2 separate regions of the Homo sapiens genome follow, and region 2 is linked to region 1. A link means that fine-mapping ties the variant in region 1 to the expression of a gene that starts in the linked region. Tissue or cell type: sun-exposed skin. Region 1 holds a variant in brackets; the other region holds the start of a gene. All regions are shown on one strand. Distances are between the middles of the regions.

What was found. PIP is the estimated chance that this variant, and not a neighbour inherited with it, causes the effect.
Region 2: TPCN2 starts here. The variant in region 1 is fine-mapped to the expression of TPCN2 in sun-exposed skin (GTEx, PIP above 0.99).

The regions. Positions count from the first base shown.
Region 1 is chr11:69,068,929-69,077,104 of GRCh38, forward strand. It overlaps TPCN2 (two pore segment channel 2), which reads left to right. Exons shown (of 25, transcript NM_139075.4): 9 at 1,502-1,567; 10 at 2,428-2,492; 11 at 2,995-3,095; 12 at 3,699-3,780; 13 at 3,987-4,073. Among named protein-coding and RNA genes, the nearest start is that of MIR3164, 10 kb to the right of the region's middle. The variant G/A (reference allele first, on the strand shown) is at 4,003.
Region 2 is chr11:69,045,350-69,053,492 of GRCh38, forward strand. It overlaps TPCN2 (two pore segment channel 2), which reads left to right and starts at 3,583. Exons shown (of 25, transcript NM_139075.4): 1 at 3,583-3,757. The coding sequence starts at 3,649. RefSeq lists silencers at 3,321-3,540, 3,661-3,830, 3,911-4,010 and enhancers at 5,987-6,561, 7,712-8,143.

The sequences.
Region 1 (8,176 bases):
GGGAGCAGGACCGTCTGAGTCCTAGGAAGTTACCGCACTGGGAGCAGGACTGTCTGAGTCCTAGGAAGTGACCGCAGTGGGAGCAGGACTGTCTGAGTCCTAGGAAGTGACCGCAGTGGGAGCAGGACTGTCTGAGTCCTAGGAAGTGACCACAGGGGGAGCAGGACTATCTGAGTCCTAGGAAGTGACCGCAGTGGGAGCAGGACTGTCTGAGTCCTAGGAAGTGACCGCAGTGGGAGCAGGACTGTCTGAGTCCTAGCAAGTGACACAGGGGGAGCAGGACCGTCTGAGTCCTAGGAAGTGACCGCAGTGGGAGCAGGACCGTCTGAGTCCTAGGAAGTGACCGCACTGGGAGCAGGACCGTCTGAGTCCTAGGAAGTGACCGCAGTGGGAGCAGGACCATCTGAGTCCTAGGAAGTTACCGCAGTGGGAGCAGGGCCGTCTGAGTCCTAGGAAGTGACCGCAGTGGGAGCAGGACCGTCTGAGTCCTAGGAAGTGACCGCAGTGGGAGCAGGACCGTCTGAGTCCTAGGAAGTGACCGCACTGGGAGCAGGACCGTCTGAGTCCTAGGAAGTTACCGCAGTGGGAGCAGGACCGTCTGAGTCCTAGGAAGTGACCGCACTGGGAGCAGGACCGTCTGAGTCCTAGGAAGTGACCGCACTGGGAGCAGGACCGTCTGAGTCCTAGGAAGTGACCGCAGTGGGAGCAGGACCGTCTGAGTCCTAGGAAGTGACCGCAGTGGGAGCAGGACCGTCTGAGTCCTAGGAAGTGACCGCACTGGGAGCAGGACCGTCTGAGTCCTAGGAAGTGACCGCACTGGGAGCAGGACCGTCTGAGTCCTAGGAAGTGACCGCACTGGGAGCAGGACCGTCTGAGTCCTAGGAAGTGACTGCAGGGGGAGCAGGACTGACTGTGGGGAGGGCTGCAGGGAGGTTTCAGCTCTGTGTGCAGAGGGACATCCTTGATAGGTAGGGAGTTCCCCGTCCTGGAGGGTGTGCGAGCAGAGGCAAGAGATCGAATTTGGACAGGAAGGCCTTTCAGCCCTCCCAGGAGACCTCCTTTCTTTTTTTTCCTTTTCTTTCTTTTTTTCTTTCTTTCTTTTTTTTTTTTGTTTGAGATGGTGCCATGCTCTGTCACCCAGACTGGAGTGCAGTGGTGCAGTCTCGGTTCACTGCAACCTCCACCTCCCAGGTTCAAGTGATTCTCCTGCCTCAGCCTCCCGAGTAGCTGGGTTTACAGGCATGAGCCACCACACCTGGCTAATTTTTGTATTTTTAGTAGAGATGGAGTTTTACTATGTTGGCCAGGCTGGTCTCGGAATTCCTGACCTCAAGTGATCCACCCGCCTCAGCCTCCCAAAGTGCTGGGATTACAGGCGTGAGCCACCACGCTCAGCAATGGAGACCTCCTTTCTATTGCAAAAGCAAATAGTGTAGCGTCAGGATGGGAGTGGGATCAGGTACTGAGGTTGTCAGTTTCTGTTATTTCTTTTTTCTTTTAGTGATGATTCCTGCGTATTCCAAGAACCGGGCCTATGCCATCTTCTTCATAGTCTTCACTGTGATAGGTGAGTGCAGGTAACGTGGCCAGCATTTTGTGACAGGATCCCGAGAGCTCAGGGACCGATACACCCTGCTGCCTCCACGACCTGAAACTTCACATCCGTGTTTTTCACTCCAGAGATCACCCCAGGGATCCCCTGCCAACAGCTTTTAACCCCAGAGATCCCCCACCAACAGCTTCACCCGAGGGATCCCCCACCCCACGGCTTCACCCCAGGGATCTCCCGCCAACAGGTTCACCCCAGGGATCCCCCACCAACAGCTTCACCCCAGAGATCCCCCACCAACAGCTTCACCCGAGGGATCCCCCACCAACAGCTTCACCCCAGGGATCTCCCACCAGCAGCTTCACCCCAGGGATCCCTCACCAACAGCTTCACCCCAGGGATCCCCCACCAACAGCTTCACCCCAGGGATCCCTCACCAACAGCTTCACCCCAGGGATCCCCCACCCCACGGCTTCACCCCAGGGATCCCCCGCCAACAGGTTCACCCCAGGGATCCCCCACCAACAGCTTCACCCCGGGGATCCCCCACCAACAGCTTCACCCCAGGGATCCCCCACCAACAGCTTCACCCCAGGGATCCCCCATGCCACGGCTTCACCCCAGGGATCCCCCACCAACAGCTTCACCCCAGGGATCCCCCACCAACAGCTTCACCCCAGGGATCCCCCACCCCACACTTTCTGTTCTGTCCCCACCATTGACCTCGTCATCCTCCCACCTGTGACTGCGCTGGCCAGGCCATGTTTCCATTTGATAGGGGACGCCCCCGGCGCTGTGCTATCCTGTGCCGGCCACCCTTGCGTTGGTTTTGCTGCTGTACTGGTGGCGCCCCTGACCGTGGCTGTCTCCTCTTGAAGGAAGCCTGTTTCTGATGAACCTGCTGACAGCCATCATCTACAGTCAGTTCCGGGGCTACCTGATGGTGAGCGAGCTCCCCAATGCTGGCTGTGCCTGGAGCTGCCGGGAGGCCAAGCAGGGTGTGGCTTGAGATGAGCAGCTGGGTGACCCTTGCTGGCCAGGCCCCTGGTGGGACGGGAGGGCAGGGTTGCCACCTCTTGTGGATCAGCCGGGGATGCACATGTGTTGTTGCTCTAGCCACTGCCAGAGATGGCAACTCCCAGGACAGCAGACCCTAAACCCTCTTGAGGGGGAGCTGGGGGCGCCCCCAACACACAGAGGAGAAACGCGGCCCAGCATATTGCGCAGCACGCCCGTCAGACTCCTTCCTGTGCGGCCTGTCCCGGGAGTCTGACCAATCCTCTCATTCCTGGGGGGTGAGGGGCTGCCCCCAGGCTGTGGGGAACTGGGCCCCCCCCCAAGGCTGCCCAGACTCCCCCTCTGCCTGTTCCCCAGGGGAGGGAAGGGTCGGGGGTTCTGAGCTGGGGGAGGGCTGATCCTGCCGTTCATAGCCTTCCTCTTTGCAGAAATCTCTCCAGACCTCGCTGTTTCGGAGGCGGCTGGGAACCCGGGCTGCCTTTGAAGTCCTATCCTCCATGGTGGGGGAGGGAGGAGCCTTCCCTCAGGCGTGAGTGCTGGGCATGGACCCTCTTCTCCCTGAGGGTGGGTGCTGTGGCTGCTGGGCAGGGGCCGGGTGTTCATTAGGGGCTTCTTGTGCTTGGCCTGTGCCTCGCCCCTGCTGGCTGGCACCCGACTCATGGAAACCACCATGTCCCTGGCGCTCTGTGGTTCCCGGCGTCCTTGTCCTGAGTCCATGCCTTTGTCTTCGTGCCCCCCGGGGACCCTGGGCTGGTGAAGGGCCGAGTGGCCCGGCCTTCTTGTCCCCCTTTGTGCTCTTCTACCCTTCTGTGCTGACTTAGGCAGCAGAGCCAGAGGTGCGTGGGCCAGGTGTCCACACCACCATCCTGCTTGGAAATGAGGGCAGAGAGCTTGAGGGACATTGCAGTGGAAAGTTCTGGTCCTGACTGCTCATAGTGGTGAAGTCAGTTTGCGCCTTCTCGGGGGGACGGCAGTGGCAGGATGCTCGTTACAGGGGCTCTTGGTGTGGCTCAAGCTGCAAAGTGGCTTCATGGCAAAGCTCAAGCCAGACGCCAGGGCAGGAGGACCCAGGCCAGGGTTCCAAGGGAGCCGAGCTGGCTGTGCTCACCGGGCTGTGGGTTTTTCCCTGCAGAGTTGGGGTGAAGCCCCAGAACTTGCTGCAGGTGCTTCAGAAGGTCCAGCTGGACAGCTCCCACAAACAGGCCATGATGGAGGTACCCGCCCCCTGCTCCCAGCCTCCTCTGGGCTCCTCCCGGGAGGTCACTTGGGCCAGCAGCCCCTTTTCAGGACTAGGGGTGTGGCTTCAGGTCACCTGCAGCATTCACAGCCCGTCAGGGTGGGGTTGGGGCTGGGGGCGCTCACCTTCGAGGGCGCTCACCTTCCCGTGCGCCCCTGCTGACCTGTGCTCCTTCCTGTGCAGAAGGTGCGTTCCTATG[G/A]CAGTGTTCTGCTCTCAGCTGAGGAGTTTCAGAAGCTCTTCAACGAGCTTGACAGAAGTGTGGTTAAAGAGGTAACTGGGGCCACAGCCGCCCAGGGTGGATAGTGGGGGCCTTCCAGTTTCCCCTGCCCTTGATCACCTGGGGAACTCTTCTAATGATCAGTGCTGGGATTCACCTGCCAGGGATCCTGGCTCCTAGTATGGGAACTGGGAATGGAGTTCTCTTTGGCTCTTGGAGACTGGGGAGATTTTTATGAAATTCACCAGACCCCAGGAACTAGCCTGAGCCCAGCCCGACATGAAGGAGTCTTCCAAATGGTCTTCTCGGTTTCCATGACAGACTCTCCTTTTCCTGTCTGTCCTTCCTCAGGAGGTCCACACACTGGTCCTCTCCAAGGCCTTTGCCTTTCACCCTTGACACTTACAAAGTTCCCAGGTGGGCCTCAGCATCCGACTAAGCTCTGTGTCCAGAAGGCCTGGGCCAGGTGGGTGGAGACAGTGGGAAACAGCCCAGGTGCTCACAGGCAGTGTGGGGGCAGCACGGGGGCTGCCATTCCAGCTGCTCAGCCTCAGAGGACTGAGCCAGACCCTGGAACAGGGATGGGGCAGAGAGGTGGGGTGGCAGACGCCTGCCAGTTCTGTGTCACTTTTCTCGTTTGCTCAGGCTCCTGGGACGGCACCACAGACTGGGGCGGGGGCAGGGCTGAAGCAGCAGACATTTGTTATCTCACAGTCCTGGCCGTCAGTCCAAGGCCAAGTGTCACAGGGCTGGTTCCTCCTGAGGCCCCTCTCAGTGGCTTGTAGGTGCTGTTCTTTCCCCATGTCCTCACCTGAGGCCTCTCTCCGTGGCCTGTAGATGCCAGCCTCTCCCTGTGTCCTCACCTGAGGCCTCTCTCCGTGGCTTGTAGATGCCAGCCTCTCCCTGTGTCCTCACCTGAGGCCTCTCTCCATGGCTGTAGACATCGCCTTCTCCCTGTATCCTCACGTGGTCATCCCTCTGTGTGTCATCTCCTCCTCTTATAAGGACCCTATTCAGATTGGATTAGGGCCCATTCTAATGGCCTTGTTTTAACTAAATTACCTTTTAAAAGGCCCTGTCTCCAAATATAGTCACATTCTGAGCTACTGGGGGTTAGAGGTTAAAGATACGAATTTCGAGGGAGACAAAATTCAACCCATAGCAACTGTCAGCTGCTTCAGGATTCCTTGTCGGCCCCTGTGGCTGCAGGACCCTGTCAGAGGTGGTTCTCTAAAAAACATTGTTTTCCTAAGGTCCTTCCAGACCTCTGTAGTCAGGCCCTGCCCCAGCCTGAGCTTGAGTGCCACGCACTCGTCCCCATCCTCACTTCGGGCATCCTCTTTAGGGCTGCATTCCTCATTGTGGCACCCCCAGCCCCTTGGGGCATATGGGCGATGAGTGTGGTGAGGATCAGTAGGTGGCAGTTTGAATATTCACGCCATCAAACCTCTGTTTGGGACAAGGCTGGGCAATGCGTTATCAACTTAAGGTTGACTTGAAGATACGAAATAAATTTTACCAGGTGCAGATTTCACAGAAACTGTGGAGATGGTCCTCAGATAACAGAAAGTTAAGAAGCACCATTCTAGATAAAGGCGCTTGTCCTAGGGGCGGAGCTGTTTGGGGCTCAGGAAGCAGCTCTTAGCGGCTGTCGTAGGCTAGGTTTGCTGTGATCCGGCCCATGTTTAACCCAGACGGACACCTTGGCCAAGAGAGATTTCAGCATTATCTATTATGTCTAAATTGTTACAAGGAGAAGGTGTTCGTATGTTAGCTGTGTAACTGAGAGATAACTGATATGACTAAAGGGGCAGGCAGACACAGGCTGGGAGAAGCCAGTCATCCTAAAGGTTCTGGAAAGGTGGTTTTTGTTCCTCAGGCTTTGCTCCTGGTGTGTTCTGGGCCATCTGGGCTCTCCCTGGGCAGTTGTTGCCGTTCCCTAGGGCGTGGTTGAGTCCTGGTTGTCCAGAGCTGACTCTCCCACCCTTTTCCAGTGTCAGGATTTGGTGAGACCTGGAAAGGGGTTCCTCCTCCCGTGATGATGTGGAGGAAGGGCGGATGGATTGCTTTGGCCGTGACCCAGTAGAGCGGGCTTGTGTGCGCACAGGAGTGGGGAAGGCCCAACACGCAGGCCTGGCCTGATTCCCAGCCTGGTGGTCTCCCTGGAGGTCCCGGCGATGCTCTTCCCAGGGCACCGAGCACTGGGCTTTGAGATGGGAGTTTAGGTTCCACAGGTTTTGGGAGCCACAATAGCCTTAATCTGGTTTTCTGACTCCTTCTTTCCTCAATAATGCTGACTGTAGAGGGGAGGCCGTTGCCCCTCGGTATCTGCAGGGATTGGTTCTAGGACTCCATGTGGATACAAAATCCATGGATGTTTAAGTCTCTTAAGATGATGTAGTGTTTGCATGTAACCTACACACATCCTTCCGTATACTTTAAGTCATTTCTAGACTACTTGGAATACCTAGCACCTAGGAATGCAGTGGGAGTTTGGGGAATAAGGGTAAGAAAACCTGTACATGCTCCGTACAGATGCTTTTTCCCTGAGTATGTTTTGATCTGCAGTTGGTTCAGTCTGCGGACGCAGAGCCCGCTGACGTGAAGGGCTGGCAGAGCTTCAGTTTGGGAGGCAGATGCTTCTGGGATTGCTCAGATTTGGGGCAGCCTGTGGTTTTGGAAGCACAAAGAGGTCCTTTCTCGGCAGGCTGACGTCATGGGAGCTCCAGCCTTTTCGAGAGCCCTCCCGTGTGGGGTCACTGCCTGGGCGTCAGCCTGGCCGTGGCCAGGGAGTCGGTTGGTGCTTGCTGGCGAGCTTCAGAGAAGGTGCCCTGCCTGCTGCTGAAAGAAGTCTCCTCTTCATATGAGAAGCTTTTGGGGTTAAAAATGTAGTGGTCATTCATTATAGACAACAGAGGGAAGTGGGAAAATCCACCTCACGGGCTTTCTACCCAGAGACAAGCACTTTAGTCATATCAGTTATCTCTCAGTTACACAGCTAACATATGAACACCTTCTCCTTGTAACAATTTAGACGTAATAGATAATGCTGAAATCTCTCTTGGCCAAGGTGTCCGTCTGGGTTAAACAGAAAGTGTCATGTACGGCAGTGGCAACTACGATAAAAGAGTAACTGCAAGATGTAAGGAAACCATGTGGTGTCCTTGGGCTGAGGGGAGTGCATGAGGAAGGATGGACCTGGAAGGGGACCCTCCGAAGCTGGGGTTCAGACCTCTTGAGAGCAGGTGTGGTTTTGCCCACAGGAATGCAGAGACGTTCACTGGCTTCCCCGGGCTGCGGTTGGTTTGTGGTCACTGGGTAAGCAGGAGGCGACCCTCCTGGGTGCAGCAGGCCCAGGCTGTGAGCAGGCAGTGGCGTGGTCCTGCCGAGGGAATTCGGTGCCAGTGTGGGCAGGTGGCCTTTGGGCACTGGTTTCCACATTGAGGACTGTGGGAAGCTGGGAAATTTTCAGGAGGTCAGGCTGTGGCTGTAGGTCCCCTGGGGACTATGTGTCTCGGACAGAGCGTGTCCAGATGTGCTTAACACCACACTCCGATCCACCCCGTAGCATCCGGAAACCGCAGGGGAGGCCTGCCCTCCTGCTCTGTCCCTCCACCTGCCCTCCTGCTCTGTCCCTCCACCTGCCCTCCTGCCGTGTCCCTCCACCTGCCCTCCTGCGGTGTCCCTCCACCTGCCCTCCTGCCGTGTCCCTCCACCTGCCCTCCTGCCGTGTCCCTCCACCTGCCCTCCTGCCGTGTCCCTCCACCTGCCCTCCTGCTGTGTCCCTCCACCTGCCCTCCTGCTGTGTCCCTCCACCTGCCCTCCTGCCGTGTCCCTCCACCTGCCCTCCTGCCATGTCCCTCCACCTGCCCTCCTGCCCTCGTGCCATGTCCCTCCACTTGCCCTCCTGCCCTCATGCCATGTCCCTCCACTTGCCCTCCTGCCCTCCTGCCATGTCCCTCCACTTGCCCTCCTGCCATGCCCCTCCACCTGCCCTCCTGCTGTGTCCCTCCACCTGCCCTCCTGCCATGTCCCTCCACCTGCCCTCCTGCCACGTCCCTCCACCTGCCCTCCTGCCCTCCTGCCATGTCCCTCCACCTGCCCTCGTGCCATGTCCCTCCACTTGCCCTCCTGCCCTCCTGCCATGTCCCTCCAC
Region 2 (8,143 bases), 24 kb before region 1:
CCAGCCTGGCCAACATGGTCAAACCCCGTCTCTACTAAAAACACAAAAATTAACTGGGCGTGGTGGCGTGTGCATGTAATTCCAGCTACTCAGGAGGCTGAGGCAGGAGAATCCCTTGAACCTGGGAGGCGGAGGTTGCAGTGAGCTGAGGTCGTGCCATTGCACTCCAGCCTGGCGACAGAGCGAGACTCTGTCTCAAAAAAAAAAAAAAGAAAAAAAAAAGAAAAGAAAGTAAAGTGGTGACAGAACAGCTGCTCCATAGACAGAGTTAGGACGTTCCGGAAAGTAAGGAGGAACGTGTCCACCCTAGGTATAATACTCGTTTATATATAGGATGAAAAAAGATCAAAGATCATGAGGACACGTGCTCTGCCACTGGGGTTTGTGATAAAGAATTTTCCTAATTACTGTATTTTGCAAGAATTGATATTATTACCTTTAAAGCAAAATTAGGGATGCTTCTGTTCTGAAGATATCAGGATATCAGCACACTCCCAAGTCTAGGTCTGCTTAGTAAACATTATCAATCTGTTCCCTTAACTGTGAACGCCTCACTTTCTGGGAATGCAGCCTGATAAAGCCCCAGCCTCATTTTTCCTAGTCCTCACTCAAGATGGAGTCGCAGCAAGTCCCAGCCTCATTTTCCCTAGTCCTCACTCAAGATGGAGTCGCAGCAAGTCCCAGCCTCATTTTTCCTAGTCCTCACTCAAGATGGAGTCGCAGCAAGTCCCAGCCTCATTTTTCCTAGTCCTAACTCAAGATGGAGTCGCTCTGGTTCGAATGCCTCAGACATAATCATATGAGCCCTTGGCTCACTGCAACCTCTGTCTCCCAGGTTCAAGCGATTCTCCTGTCTCAGCCTCCTGAGTAGCTGGGATTACAGGCGCCTGCCACCATGCCTGGCTAATTTTTGTATTTTTAGTAGAGACGGCGTTTCACCATGTTGGTCAAGCTGGTCTCGAACTCCTGACCTCAGGTGATCCGCCTGCCTTGGTCTCCCAAAGTGCTGGGATTACAGGCATGAGCCACTGTACCTGGCCTGAAAGCAGAGTCTTGACGAATTATTTGTACACTCATGTTCACAGCAGCATTATTCACAATAGTCAAAAGGTGGAAGCAACCCAGTGCCCATCCATGGATGACTGGATAAGCAAAATGTCATGGATACATACAGTGGAGTATTATTCAGCTTTAAAAAGGAAGGAAATTTGGACACATGCTACATGGATGAACCTTGAGGATTTTAGGCTAAATGACATAAGCCAGTCACAAAAGAACAAATACTGCAGGATTCCACTTAAATGAGGAACCTAGAGTCGCCAAAATCTTAGGGATAGAAAGGAGAATGGTGGTTTCCAGGGGCTGAGGGAATGAGGAGTCAGTGCTTAATGGGTCCAGAATTTCAGTTTTGCAAGATAAAAAGAGTTCTGGAGTTGGAGGTGATAGTTGTATAGCATCATTAATATATTTAATATCAATGAGCTGTACACTTCAATATAGTTATGTGAACTAAAAATATCTGAGACAGGTCTCGATCTATTTAGTAAGTTTATTTTGCCAAGGTTAAGGAGTGCCTGGGAGGCAGGTCTATGCCTTCCTTCAAGGATGATTTGTAGGACTTCAATATTTAAAGGGGAAACTGGCCAGGTGCTGTGGCGGAGGTTGCTGAGTGACCTGAGATCGCACCACTGCACTCTAGCCTGGGCAACGAAGCAAGACTCTGTCTCAAAAAAAAAAAAAAAAAAAAAAAAGGGAAAGGGTGGATATTGGGAAAGAGGGAGAAATTTTAAAAATATGTGGAGAGATAAGAGACAAAGGTTGCATTCTTGTGAGTCTTTGATCAGACTTTCACTGAAATACACAATTTACAGGTTGCGGGGGTAGAGGAATAGTCACTTATGCCTTAGTCTGGCTCGGTGAATCTGCACTTTTATACCAGAGGAAGCAATCAGGTGAGCAGAGGGATGACTTAGAGTTCCATCCTTTGTTTGGAACCTGTGAAGATCAGTTGTCAATGTACATTGTTAGGGTAAAATTCAACAAAACTGTTTTAGGGTAAAGATCTTGGGTGCCCACGAAAAATTTCCTAGCGGGCAAATTGTGAGGGAGGTATGTAGCTTTTTAAATCTTCGTAGCTATTTTATTAAAGAAGAAAAGGCGAGGCAGTTTGCCCAACGCAGTTCCCAGCTTGACTTTTCCCTTTGGCTTAGTGATTTTGGAGTCCTGAGATTTATTTTCCTTTCACAGTTATGATGGTAAATTTTATATTTATTTTAAACCCTCCCCCCTCCCCAAAAGAGGGGGAAAAAGTAAAGAGGTATGGCAGAAGGGGAAGTCACAGAGATTGGAAGCGTCTTGCAGCACCTTTTTTTTTGAGATGGAGTCTCGCTCTGTTGCCAGGCTGGAGTGCAGTGGCGCAATCTCAGCTCACTGCAATTTCCGCCTCCCGGGTTCAAGCGATTCCCCTGCCTCAGCCTCCGAGTAGCTGGGACTATAGACACGTGCCACCACGTCTGGCTAACTTTTTGTATTTCAGTAGAGACGGGGCTTCACCATGTTGGCCAGGATGGTCTCGATCTCCTGACCTCGTGATCCACCTGCCTCGGTCTCCCAAAGGGCTGGGATTACAGGCGTCTTGCTGCATCTCGAAGCGTCTTCAGCGTGCTCTTGCTTGCTGGCTCTGATGATGGAGGTGTTCAAGCCATCGTGGAAGGAATGCAGTGGCCTCTAGGAGTGAGAATGACACCAGCCAACATCCAGCAAGAAGACGTGGACTTCAGTCCTAGGCCCATGGAGACAATTCTGTTAACATCCTGGATGAGCCTGGAAGTGGGCTTTCCCCAGAGTCTGCAGATAAGAGCCCACGGCAGCTGACATTTTGACTCTAGCCTCGTGAGGCCCTGAGACAGGAGGTTTCCTGCCCCGCAGGACTGAAAGATGATGAATGGGAGTTATTTTATATTTTCAGATTGTGGTAATTAGTCACTGTAGCAATAGAAAACGAATACAAGGTCTTTATGCATTAATGTTGAAAACACTTTTTATATACGTTGTAAATATTTTTTAAGTGTGTCATATGTTTTTAAACTTTTCCCTTAATGATATTGAATCCTCCTAATTTCACCATCAGAGGGTAAACTCCAGTTCCATTCTGGGGGGAGTCCTTTGCAGTCACCCCGTGTACTCAATACTCACATGCATCAGAATCACCCCGAATGCTTGTTAAAACACAGATTCCTGGGTCCTCCCCGCAGAGTTGCTGATTTAGTAGGTTTAAGGGCCCAAGAATTTGCATTTCTAAAATGTTTCCAGGTGATGCTGAAGCTTCTGGCCGGAAAGACATCCTTTGAGAACATATTTCCTCCCCAGCCCTCGGCCCTTAAGCCCCAGAACGCTGCCCCGCCCTGGGTGGAACGAAGCTGAGCTCCACCCTAGAGGGGCGGGGCCCTTTAGCTCCGCCCCACTCAGGAGAACCCCACCCCTCCCTCCCCGTTCTCATTGGCTGGGACTGCAGGGATCCCCTGCGCCACAGTGCCGTGCGCGCGTCAGCAAAAACGCCAGGGACGGGGTCTCCGCGCCTGCGCAGTGAAGCTGGGCGCCTTCGGGGCTTGAGCTTCTGAGGGTCGGGTCCAGCGCGTGGGCTGCTGGATGGCGGAACCCCAGGCGGAGTCGGAGCCCCTGCTGGGCGGGGCCCGCGGCGGTGGCGGCGACTGGCCGGCGGGGCTGACCACTTACCGCAGCATCCAAGTCGGCCCTGGTGAGCCGCCCGGACCTGGGGAGGGGACTGGCCCGGGAGACCAGGGTCGCGCGTGGGGGTCCCGCTGTCCCAGCACCCCGCTTTCTGCCGGGCGCGCCCCCACCAGGTTCGAGTCCGAGCGGGGCCCGGGCCGCGCCGGGTGCCAGGCGAGCCGGTGTTCTGAGGGCGAGTGGGCTGCGTCCTGCGGACCCGGACCGGGGTCAGGGCAGAGCTGGGGTCTCTTCCGTGTCGCGTCCTGATCCCGACCAGCTGGGCGAAGAGGCCCTCGCCCAGCCTTGGGCAGCCCCGAGGGAACCGGCCACCTGCGGCAGGCACCCTCCGTGTGCCCGGGCGGGCCCAGACCCCATACTTCCCGACTGTCGCCGTAATGAGGGTCGCCTAATTGACTCAGAGAAGGCAGCACTTTGATTTTTCCCGTTTCTTCTGGAAAAAGCAGAGGCTCACAGAGAGGCGTTACCCTACCCAAGGTCACACACCCAGTAAGTGGCCGAGGTGGGATTCGAACCAGTTGGGAGCTAGGAGTCCTTTCTTTGTAGGGTGCCTTTCCCCGTCCCACTTCCCGTGGGGCTGGGGCGGGCCCCCTAGACGGGGGCGGCTTCCTCTCCTTGCCCTCTGCCACCCCAGAGTCCCCTCTGCACTCCCTCCTGCCCTTCCCGTTTTTTGTCCTGGTCTGAAGATTGCTGAATCCGCCCCCCGAGGGTGGGGTGCGTCCGCCCCTCGCTGACACCAGGGGAATGAGATTCTGGATTAAGAGGTGGAAGGACCTTAGCTTCACTTCACAGATGAGGAAACTGAGGCCCAGAGAGGCCCTGAGACCTGCCCAAGGTCACAGCCCTCTGTTCTGGTGCGGCTGCTGCTCGAACCACTCTGAGAATTCACACCTGGCTCCTTCCCTCTCTGGCCTCTCTTTCCTTCTTTCCTCCTCTGTCTGGAAGGAACTGGGTTGGAATCCTGGTGCCCACCCACTGGTCTGTGGCATGTGCCCATCCATGGAGTAATGAGGGGCCAAGGAGGGGACCCTGACGAGAGATGAAAAACCAGAGGCCAAGGTGGCCACCCTGTCTGCTCACCTCAGAAGCTGCCTCCAGGAAGTTCTTCAGGTGCTTCCTGGGACCAGTCAGGAAGGAGATCTGCAGGGAGCAGCTCTGGCAGGCCCCTTGATGAGACGCCCAGCATATGGCACCGTTCAGGGAACACAGACTTTGTGTCTAGGGGTCTGGGCGCCTTTCTGGGGCTGCACTGGCTGTGTGACCTTGGCAGGTTGCTTAACCTTTCTGTTTCTTTTTTGAGATGGAGTATCACTCTGTCACCCAGGCTGGAGTGCAGTGGCGTGATCTCGGCTCACTGCAGCCTCTACCTCTGCTGGGTTGAAGCGATTCTCCCGCCTCAGCCTCCCAAGTAGCTGGGACTGCAGGCGCCCGCCACCACACTTGGCTAATTTTTGTATTTTTAGTAGAGATGGGGTTTCACTGTGTTGGCCAGGGTGGTCTCAAACTCCTGACCTCGGGTGATCTGCCTGCCTCGGCCTCCCAAAGTGGTGGGATTACAGGCGTGAGCCACTGTGCCTGGCCATGCTTCACCTTTCCGAATCTCAGTAAAAGGGAGATAATACTAAGGACTGCCTGGCGGGCATTGTGAGGATTCAGAGAGAATCCAGAGTTTGTCCTCAGCACAGGGCCCGGCGGGCTGGTGTGGGGGCCAGTGGCCGTCCTGGGTAAGCTCTGTGATCATTGCAGGTCCTCCCTGGCAGGTGAGACCCGCTCTGCTGGGCAGTGTGGCTGACAAGAGGAGGCTCTCGGGGAGCGCTCTTTGTCCCTATGCTGTGGCCTCAGCCAGGGCTTCTGAGAACGTGGACAGGACGCTCTGTGTTCTGAATCCCCTTGGCCAGGGTCCCCAGCAAGGACTGGCAGACTATGGAGCCATGGAGACTCCGAAAGGCTCATTCAGTCTCTGTGCTGAGGCCTGTGCCAGGCTTTGAAATGAAGGCCCTGTGCTCTGGTTTGCAAGTCCTGTGGTTGGTCTCTTGCCAACGGGTTGTGGTGAGGGCTGCTGCTGTGGGTGCCCCAAGGACCCCAGTGGACCCTGCTGTTGGGTCGTTTTGACTTGGCCCCACCTGATGGGGCCGGGGTCAAAGGTTGAGAACAGTTGTTTTCTCTTGTTGCTGGGTCAGAAAAATCACACTTTTACTGGTTATCAAACAAGTCAGAGGACAAGGGATTGCGATGCTGTAGAGGCTTTCAGAGTAACTGAATGCTTATGAAGGGCTCACTTAGCAAAGTACTCTGGCTATAGTAAGTCATTCAGTCTGTACTTAGCTCCTATTGGGTGGGGGTCCATGAGGACCTGGAGCACCTAGAGGTTAAGGGACTTGCCCAGGGTCACAGAGGATGATGGTCAGGACCCTACACAGGTTGTGCAGCCTGGAGCCTGGAGCAACAGGGGAGCGGGAGCTCAGACCTGGATGTTGCGGGGCAGAGGCTTGGATTAGGAAGCCGTGTCGAGGCCTGGTGTGCCGGATGCAGCATCTCAGCCCCTGCTGTCCTCTGTGCCTTGCAGAACCCTTCAGCCCCAGTGGGTGATGGTGTGTGGAAAGGTGATTGTCCCCCAGGGTGATGAGCTCAGGGCGGGGCGAGCTGTCCCAAGGGAGTCCCTGGACTCACAAATTGGGGGATGGTGCTCCTGGCAGAAGCAGCAGCCTGAGTAAAGGGTTGGAGGCTTTGGAGAGCATGGCCTTGGCAGAGCCCAGTTCGGAATGAGTGGCACTGAGGGTTGAAAGGCAGGAGAGAGGCGGGCCGGCAAATGTGGGAACCTGCAGTGCCAGACCAGGGTGGAGTGTGGGCCTGGAATAGTGGGGGCCCAGGGGAAGCTGCGATGTGCTTCTGAGTGTTTGGAACGAGATCCTTGGGCTGTTGCAGGGTGAAACGGAGGATGGCCAGACCCAGAATTTTACAAACCAGCAACCAAAAAGCCAGGCGAAAGGGAACCACGAGTGCTGGATGGTTCCAGGGGTGCCCACCACTGTTGGCCTGGGATGGCTGGCCTGGGTGGATGTGAGTACTTTCCGTGGTCCTGGGGCTGGAGTGAGGCCCGGAACTCGGCCGCTTGTCTCTTGTCTAAGAAGCTTGTATCACTAGATCTCTCCTGGTAGAGATTTTGTCTTCTCCCAGGGAATCTGGTAAGGTGGGGCCTCTCAGATCACCGGCCCCCCAGGCTCCCCTCAGGGCTGTTCATTTATTCATGGGATATATCAGCTTTGAGTCCTGTGTGCTTGACTTCTGGGCTCTGCAGATACAGCAGGGAACAAAACAGTGTGGCTTCTGTTCATAGCGATCCCAGGATGTGCTCAGGGGACATAAACAGTAGCCACTTTCAGAGCTTCCCTGGGGAGACATTCGGGTGTCCTCAGGGTGGGTCTCGTGGCTGTGCATGTGGGCACCAAAGCCACAGGGAGGGAAGGCTCTTGCTCCCGGCAGTGCAGCAGGGCCGGGCAGAGTGAGGGTGGGGTCCGGTCTCCTGCCTCTGTCTGGGGCCCCTCACACCTCTAATCCGTCCAGGGCCCAGCTGCCTATACCTCATGCCCCCAAGCAGGAGCCCCGAGGACAGGGGCAGCTGCCTCCCTAAGGATGGCCAGTGGCGTGGGCGGGTCATGGCCTGGAGCTCTGCCTGGGGACCAGCACCTCCTGAGGCCTCTGCTGCTGCCTCCCATGTCACCACATTGTCTTGGTGCAGCTGTGGGCCCCAAGGGGCCAGGTGTGAAAGCCGAGTCTCAACTGAAAAAGCAGCTGCTTCACCCTCTCCCCGTGCTGGGAAGTGTCAGCCTCTCCGGGCTCCTCAGTTGCTTCGGGTTGAGTTTTCCTTCCCTGTTGGCCTGCTGGGGAGCAGCTCTGCAGCGAGGCCAGAGGTGGCCCGTGCCTACGATGCGGGTGGGTGGCCCAGGCTCCCTGCAGTGGCTCAGTGGCTGACCAGGTGCGCCCGCTGGCTGCTCTGTGGCAGGTGAGGGGCTTGTGAGCAGGCCAGGGTGCTGGGTCCTGGCTTCTGTGCCGCCTGACTTTTCCTGAAGGCCCCTCCTAGTCAGGAGCCACTGCCGCTTTTGCCCAGGCCTGCCGGGAGGCTCCACCCTGCTTGTGCTGTTGGTAAAGGCGGGCGGCCACCCTTCACCACAGAAGGCACCGGCAGAGGCTGGGGGACTCGGGCGTTCCTGCAGCTCTGACCCTGGGAGTGATTTGGGTGGGCTTGCCTGGGCCCATGGACCGGGACAGTGAGGGAATGGGACCTTGGTAGCACTCATGAAGCCTCATGGCAGTGCCTTTGGGTTCTAGATGCCAGTTCTCCCTGTCACTGTTGAATCCGAGGTCTGGTTTGATGGGGGTGGGTGGGACACTGGGT